Linked DNA regions of Homo sapiens. The protein of the gene in region 2 interacts with the protein of the main gene of each other region in a pairwise test. Each region holds a gene or a part of one and is shown on either strand. Other genes may lie near its edges.

Region 1 (3,752 bases), on a different chromosome or scaffold from region 2:
CCTGCCTCAGCCTCCTGAGTAGCTGGGGTTACAGGTACATGCCACCATGCCCAGCTAATTTTTGCATTTTTATAGTAGAGATGGCGTTTCACTATGTTGGCCAGGATAGTCTCAATCTTGACCTTGTGATCTGCCCACCTTGGCCTCCCAAAGTGCTGGGATTACAGGTGTGAGCCACCTTGCCCGGCGTTTTTTTTTGTTTTTTTTTTTTTTTGAGATGGAGTTTTGCTCTTGTTGCCCAGGCTGGAGTGCAATGGCATGATCTCGGCTCACTGCAACCTCCGCCTCCCTGGTTCAAGCGATTGTCCTGCCTCAGCCTCCCGAATAGCTGGGATTACAGGTATGCACCACCATGCCTGGCTAATTTTGTATTTTTAGTAGAGATGGGGTTCCTCTGTGTTGGTCAGGTTGATCTCCAACTCCTGACCTCAGGTGATCTGCCTGCCTTGGCCTCCCAAAGTGCTGGGATTATAGGCGTGAGCCACTGTGCCTGGCTAGAACCACAGTCTTATACCATGATTTTCTGTTATTTTCCCATCTACTAGAAAATAAGTAAGTATTTTATCATTTATTGGAAAATAAAGTGAGTTTGTTCACATTAGTGAATAATATTGACTATAATTTTTTACTTTCTATAGGCATTTTTATATTTTTATTCTAGTCATTTTATATAAAATAAAAAGGTCTAGTAAAATGTCATGTGTTCCTGTTACCACAAGGTGGTGCAAATTATATCACTTTTTTTTTGAGATGGAGTCTCGCTCTGTCGCCTATGAATTGTCACTCATAGTCTAATGTATCAGGAGTTCATTATAACTAAAGATGTCCATGGAATTTTTAGGAGTGATGACTCTTAATGTTCAGGCTGTCTGCTGTATTCTTGGCCCACTGAAGGGAGCTAGAAGTAAGGATGGATATAGATTACTGATTAATGATTCATAATGTTATTTTGGTGAGCACAGAAAGGTGTGTAAGGGAGCAGAAAAGCCTGTTCCCCCTCGTCTCCTGACAGAAGAAGAATATCGGATACAAGGAGAGGTAGAAACCCGAAAGGCTTTAGAGGAGCTCCGAGAATTTTGTAACAGTCCAGACTGCTCTGCTTGGAAGACTGTTTCTCGAATCCAGTCTCCAAAAAGGTAAACTCGGCCAGATATACCAAGCATCTATCAGGGTAATTGTGACCTTGAGTTCTACCAGAGATCATACTTCTAGAGAATCGTGCACTTGTGACCTTTGTTTTCCTGTTAATCTTCAAGTAGTCAAGAGAAGGGTGGATATATAATCACACATTAAGCAGTAACCTGTTTCCTCAGGGAACTATCTACTCTAGCTTTGATTGTAGCATTAAGATGGGAAGACTCCAGTACCATATTAAGTTTCCCTTCTGAAAGTTTTGCATTGCTGTCTGAGTTGGTAGGGTTCCCCCCTACCCACTTTTTAGTTGGGGGCAAATGTACCAATGAGTATGTGAAGCTTCAATTTGGAATCATGATGGCATAAAGTTTACAGGGCCATAAACGTGAATAACTGTAATGCCCCTTAATCTTCTCTTATCAGGATTACAGATGACTAAAGGAACCTTGGCACTTTCATAATTAGAAAGGATAGGCAAGTGCTTATTAAGCAGGATGGAGTTGCAGGGGTATTAGCCTATGATCCCAGCTTTCCTTTTCTCCTTAACTTCATGCTTTAGTCTACTTACCTGCCAGAGTAAGGACAAGGATGTTGGCTAGACTTAATATAATTTGAGTTGCGAGCATATCGAGGGCTTTAATTTGTTCTTATTTTGAAAGAAGACCAGAAAGGACAGAAGGATATTTCTAACGAGTATTATCTTCTCTTTTCCAGATTTGCTGACTTTGTGGAAGGCTCTTCCCACCTCACGCCAAATGAAGTTTCTGTCCATGAGCAGGAGTATGGATTAGGGAGCATTATTGCCCAGGATGAAATCTATGAGGAAGCATCCTCTGAGGAGGAGGACTCATATTCTCGGTGTCCTGCTATCACACAGAACAACTTTCTAACCTAGGTAGTGGTCAGTTATCTTTACGTGGACTGGCTTGGTGCCTTGGTCCATGTTGCATGTGTTGTGCAATTGCTTTCAACCCTTTGAAACAGAGTGAGATAGATAGGGTAGAAATTCTCCTACTGAAATAAGAGGCCTAAAAAGGCCTCCCTTTGGAAATGGGAGGTCTCTATGGGATCCCTGAGGAAGGAGAGTGGATAAAGTAGTGAATGCTGGGTAGTTCACTTCCCATTGGTTAAGCTAACAGCCCACTTTTATGTTTCCAGAGAAATTGGATGGCCACAGCTAGCATGGCATTCTAGCTCCTTCTTGAAAGTTGATTCAATCATGGCATTTCTGTCACTGGCTGGCTCTCCAAAGTAAGAACTGTTGTTAAGTGCAGGAATGCTTTTAGACTATAGGCTGCAACTTCCAGAGAGAAATCCACAAATCTGAGCCTCCTTCACTCCAGCTTTTATTTCAGTGACTTTAGAATAATTATTGATTTAACTGTTTTGGGAGGAAAATAGATTTTTATTGTTTTGTTTTTTAAATGAATGTCTTTTAAAAAACATAACAAACTCATGTTCCAGAACCAGCAAGTGCTCCAGAGTGACACACCCCCTAGGCCCCTACATATTTATTAATATGGATTATCCATTAAAGCCCCAGGAGCTGTTGTTTTAAGCTTTGATTTAGTTCTCATACATATGATAGAAAGTCCTATTTGCCTTTAGGAACATGCCTGTAGGCTCTTCTGCAGGTGAGATGTACTGGGCTTTTTATTATATTCAACTTTCAATTCCATCTTAAAAAACATTTGTATTCTTCTCTTCCCATTCTTCCTTACCCTGCCTTTGCCCTTTCAGGAAGGGTCAGTTCCCTTACCTGTGAACTATGTATGTTCAGAGTAGCATTATTCCTGCTAGCTAGGAGAAGTCATCTTGTTTAGGGGATTTGGATGCTTTTTATACGTTCTCCATTTTCCTGTCATTGGGTCATGTTATCTTTGAGTTGCTATGAAATCAGGAAACTGTCTCCTTTTCCTTTCCCTTCCTTTGTCTACATGCTCTGTCCATTCCTTTCAGCCTTTTCTCACCACCCATACTCCCCCAAATCTGGGTAATTTTTAAGCCTTGAAACTATGTAGTTTCTTGATACACAATTTGTAGTTATGCAGCAGCCACAATTTGCATTGCCAGGAAATAGGCTCCAGGTTATCTTCATGCCTCTGGGTGCTCATTCAGCTGTCAAGTTTCCATGAACTTACACTTATTTATGATTGCGTTTCTGACCTGAGATGTATGCTGCCTGTTATTGCAGTAGCATTAGTTTCAGATTCTTTTGCCATTGCAAAGTACCCCTTATAAACCAGCAATGTCATCTGTGAGGAAGCAAATTCTCAAGTGTCTGTCATTTACTTGGTTCTTTTTCTTTGTGGTCTTCACCCTTATACCCTGGAAAAGTCTGTAATTACCTTAGCCAGGAAGATAGATGGTCATGGCAAGCGCACAGCACCAGACTTACTGGCTCACCAAGATGATGGAAAAAGGCAGATGATTTTTTAAAAAGCCGTAATGACTCCTTTAGACCAGCCATTTAGCGTGGTAATTTTGAAAGGCCTAGCTCCATTGCAGACTTCCAAAGGGTCAGCTCTGAGACTGCCCTCCAGGTGGGCAGTTGATTATTTCCACCAGTGTTTTCCAGAGCCTTAAACTGTCCTAAGTGACAACTACCTCAGTTGGCA
Region 2 (3,752 bases):
CAGGGTTCTGTAGAGCAACTTTGGGAGAGAGATGTTTGGCATTGTGCCTGTTATGGGGAGATGAGGACACTCACTGAGATGAAGAAAGAAAACCAGTGAGCCCAGGGTCCCAGAGCCAGTGAGTGGTGTGACTGGGTCCACATGTCACATGCTGGGGAAGGGAAAAGGAAGCTACTCACACTTTTCCCCCTACTCAGGATGCCACTTTTCAAGCCTCCAGACTGGGTGCCAGACCTAGATGGAATTCCCTGGCGTGTGTTGTGCATTTGGGCTGGGGCAGGAGAACTTAACTGAGGTTTCATTGTACCTCCACTATGAAGAGTAACAGGGCTGCACCTGCTGTCTTGTCCTTCTGCCCCTTTAATGTCAGCACTTTTGCCATAAACTTACATTTTAGGAAGGAAAATTTCAAATGCTAATACCACAGTTCAGCCACTACTTTCCTTCCTGTTCCCAGCCACTAGGTTTGTCACACTTACAAACTTAACCTCATTTGGGGAATTTGCATTTACATTTCTTGCTTAAGTATTTCTTCTGAAAGCAGTTTGTACCATAAGGTACTTGGGCAAAAGAAAGTAGAGAGACATTAGGAAATCTAGATTCCAGCCAATTCTGCTACCAATTTTGTTAGTTAAGTCATGGTGTTTAGTAGATGAGAGTGAAAGATATCAGATTTGTCCAAGTTGCCAGAGATGGAAAATGGATTCTCTCAAAATCTCTGCTCTGCCATCCCCTGCATCATTATTTTAGGGAAAGTATCATGGGAAAAGAAGTAAATGATTTAAGAAACATAGTGTGTTTGAGTTTGTGTGTGTATGTAATATGCATATGTTTTTGTGTATATGTGTTGGCGTGGATTTTCAAGACCTCGCTAGGGTCTTACCATCTTAAGTCAGAAAAACTGATAATCATCCTTTGATTTTCCTGTTCAACTAACATTCATAGATAGAGCAGCCACCTTTTGGAGGGGCTCCAGAATCACCACCTTCTGTGTGTAGAAAGTGCTCCTTGTTATTTGCCACCTTTCTCTATAGCACAATCCTGGAAAATTTGCTAGTGGTGGTTCTGGTGGGACAACTAATAGAGAACTTTGGTAAACTAATTTTGATGACTTTTTTTTCTTAATTCCATATTTTTAGTTTGATAATGCTGATGTTACAAGTTAACTTCCTTATGTGTGCCATGCACCAGAATTGGAATTAGAAATCTTTTCAGCATTATTGAGGGCCACAAAGAAATCTTTCTAAAGAATAAATAGAAAAAGACAACTCGTGTGGATAAAATAAGTAGAGAAGTTGCCTCAAAAATCACAAGTAGCCTGGTTGTGTCCAAACGTATGAAAATAATATCTAATGTAAAAAGAAAAGAAAAATCTTTCCTGTTTAGCTGTGCAGTCCCTTGCCCTATTCCTGTAGAGCCTTGTAAGATTCCTTGCTTTCTCTCCCGTTCTACATCCAGTTTCCAAGTCTTACATCTTTCCTCTGTCTCTTTCTTGGTCCATCCCTCAATGGCTGTGCTTGGAGTCTTTAGTCTTTGCCGGCCTCTAGTTTTGCACCCACCCTTTTCTCAGCCCCCTTGTATGGTACCCTCACTGCTAAGAAGATGGCCTCTCTCTGGTACAACAGTGATGACATTGTTTTCCTGATTGCCCATTGTCTGCAGGGTAAAGTCTTTATAATATGGCCCTTGACTGCTTTTTTCTTCTTCAGAGTCTTTCTGGACCCTGCAGCTCCCTTTGTGTCTGAAGCTTACAGCTTCCTCTTAACACCAGCAGTTTCCAGTTTTCCATGAATGTCCTCAGCCACCTCCCTTTAATGAGAGCACTATTTCTGCGCCATTTACTGCTGAATGCTCCTGCCTCAAGGGTCACCTCTTTCCGTGAAGCTTTTCTGACAGCCCAGCACCTTGCCTTCCCCTAGCACAGGCAAGGAGAAGCCTGGGACCCCTCTGTCCTGTCAGCTGCCCTTAATGCAGGATTGTATTTAATTGTTTCTGTGGTCACTTTGCAATTGGAATCGTATCTTACTCTTTTGCCTTTTTTTTTTTTTTTTTTTTTTTGAGACGGAGTCTCACTCCGTCACCTGGGCTGGAGTGCAGTGGCGCCATCTCGGCTTACTGCAACCTCCACCTCCCAGCTTCAAGCGATTCTCCTGCCTCAGCCTTCCGAGTAGCTGGGATTACAGGCGCCCACCACTACGTCCAGCTATTTTTTTGTATTTTTAGTGGAGACAGGTTTTCACCATGTTGGCCGGGCTGGTCTCAAACTCCTGACCTCGCGATTCGCCTGCCTCGGCCTCTCAAAGTGCTGGGATTACAGGTGTGAGCCACCACGCCTGGCCTTACCTTTTTAAATCTCCAGCAAATACCAAGAACCAGACATATTGTCAGGGCTTAAGTATTTGTTGAAGGAAAATATTATCTTATAGTTTTGCGTCGAAGTATACCTCATGGAGTGTTTTCGTTTATTCAGTTCCTGTTTTCTTACAAAATGTCTGACTTTAACTGTGTTCCTTTTAGTGCCTCCCTGCATTTAAGCACATTCCCATAAAAAAGTGATGACTTACTACTGATATTTTACAAACTTCTTTAGTGTTTAGCTTTGGTAGACTGTAACTAGTCACTGGGAAATAACTTAAAGGTATCACAAGAAATGTGATTTTTGCATCAGAGAACCATTTGATTTATAAGCAGGATTGTGTTTGCATATGATTTTACACAGGCATGATTTTAACAGTCTTTCTTGTTTTTTTTAAAAAAAAGTACAAGAAGAGGAAAAGAGGCCCAGACATACTCTGTTGAGCTCTCAAACAGTGGAACCTCACAGTGTTGTATATATTGCTATCAGACTCTGCCATGCCTTTATTTAAAGGAAAGAAAGAAGACATTTAATGGGAAGTGACAAGCTTCTTCGAATTCTCCCTCTCAGTGAGCAACTGAGAACCATGCATACTCAATGGATTTGATTTTTATTGGCAAATCCCAGGGTTGGCAGTGTGGCAGTTTAAATTTCTTTTTGTGTTTTTGCTTTCTCTCCTCAGTTGTCTCTCACTTGCAAGTCTGACATCACATGCATAAAAATATAGTCGATTTTACTTATTTATACCTTTGCACATACATGTCAGTATTCTCTATGTAATAATTCTTTACCTAGGCATCAGTTGCTCAGGAAAATTGACTTGGAATGTCTGCTCTTAGTTGACTTTACTCAGCAACAGGCAAAGGGAGGATATATATGGTGGGGGGATGGGGGTGACAAATGAGCTGTTAGTTTTATGACCCCTTGAGAAAAAAAGAGGTGATATTCGTTTAACTACATTTCAACTGTTAGGGATGCTTGTTGCCATTTTATTTGTATAGAAATTTTAAAATCCTGTCAGTTAATCTTGTCAGGATTTTGGAGCAGATTTTTAAATAGGAATATAGTGTGAAACTTCTAGATTTACTAATAGTTATTGGAGCTCTGCATTGCCGAGATATGTTCTTAATCTCTTGATGTTCTGTGAGCCATCTATACTCAGCACATGCCTAACTCAAAAGAGTTGTGGACTAGAAAATGCATACAGTATTGCAGCATCTCATCTCGAGATAGAAGGGTGGTCACACAGCCTTTTTCAAATGCTGCACCATTGGTCTGCTAGGCTGTGATTTTTGATACTAATTGGTTTCTGTTTTTCTTCGAAGAGTGAATGCATTGCCTGTGAGATACAGCTGGCTAATACTGGGTAGGGGGAGGGCCTCTTGTCCCTCAGGCA

What was found.
Region 1: the proteins of INSIG2 (region 2) and NEMP1 interact in binary tests that used the Homo sapiens proteins (3 or more experiments, as listed by UniProt).

The regions. Positions count from the first base shown.
Region 1 is NC_000012.12:57,058,156-57,061,907, reverse strand, and holds part of NEMP1 (nuclear envelope integral membrane protein 1 isoform a precursor), read left to right. Parts: intron 1-962; coding exon 963-1,136; intron 1,137-1,848; coding exon 1,849-2,029; 3' UTR 2,030-3,752. UniProt on the Homo sapiens protein: Together with EMD, contributes to nuclear envelope stiffness in germ cells. Required for female fertility. Essential for normal erythropoiesis. Required for efficient nuclear envelope opening and enucleation during the late stages of erythroblast maturation.
Region 2 is NC_000002.12:118,098,339-118,102,090, forward strand, and holds part of INSIG2 (insulin-induced gene 2 protein), read left to right. Parts: intron 1-3,752. UniProt on the Homo sapiens protein: Oxysterol-binding protein that mediates feedback control of cholesterol synthesis by controlling both endoplasmic reticulum to Golgi transport of SCAP and degradation of HMGCR.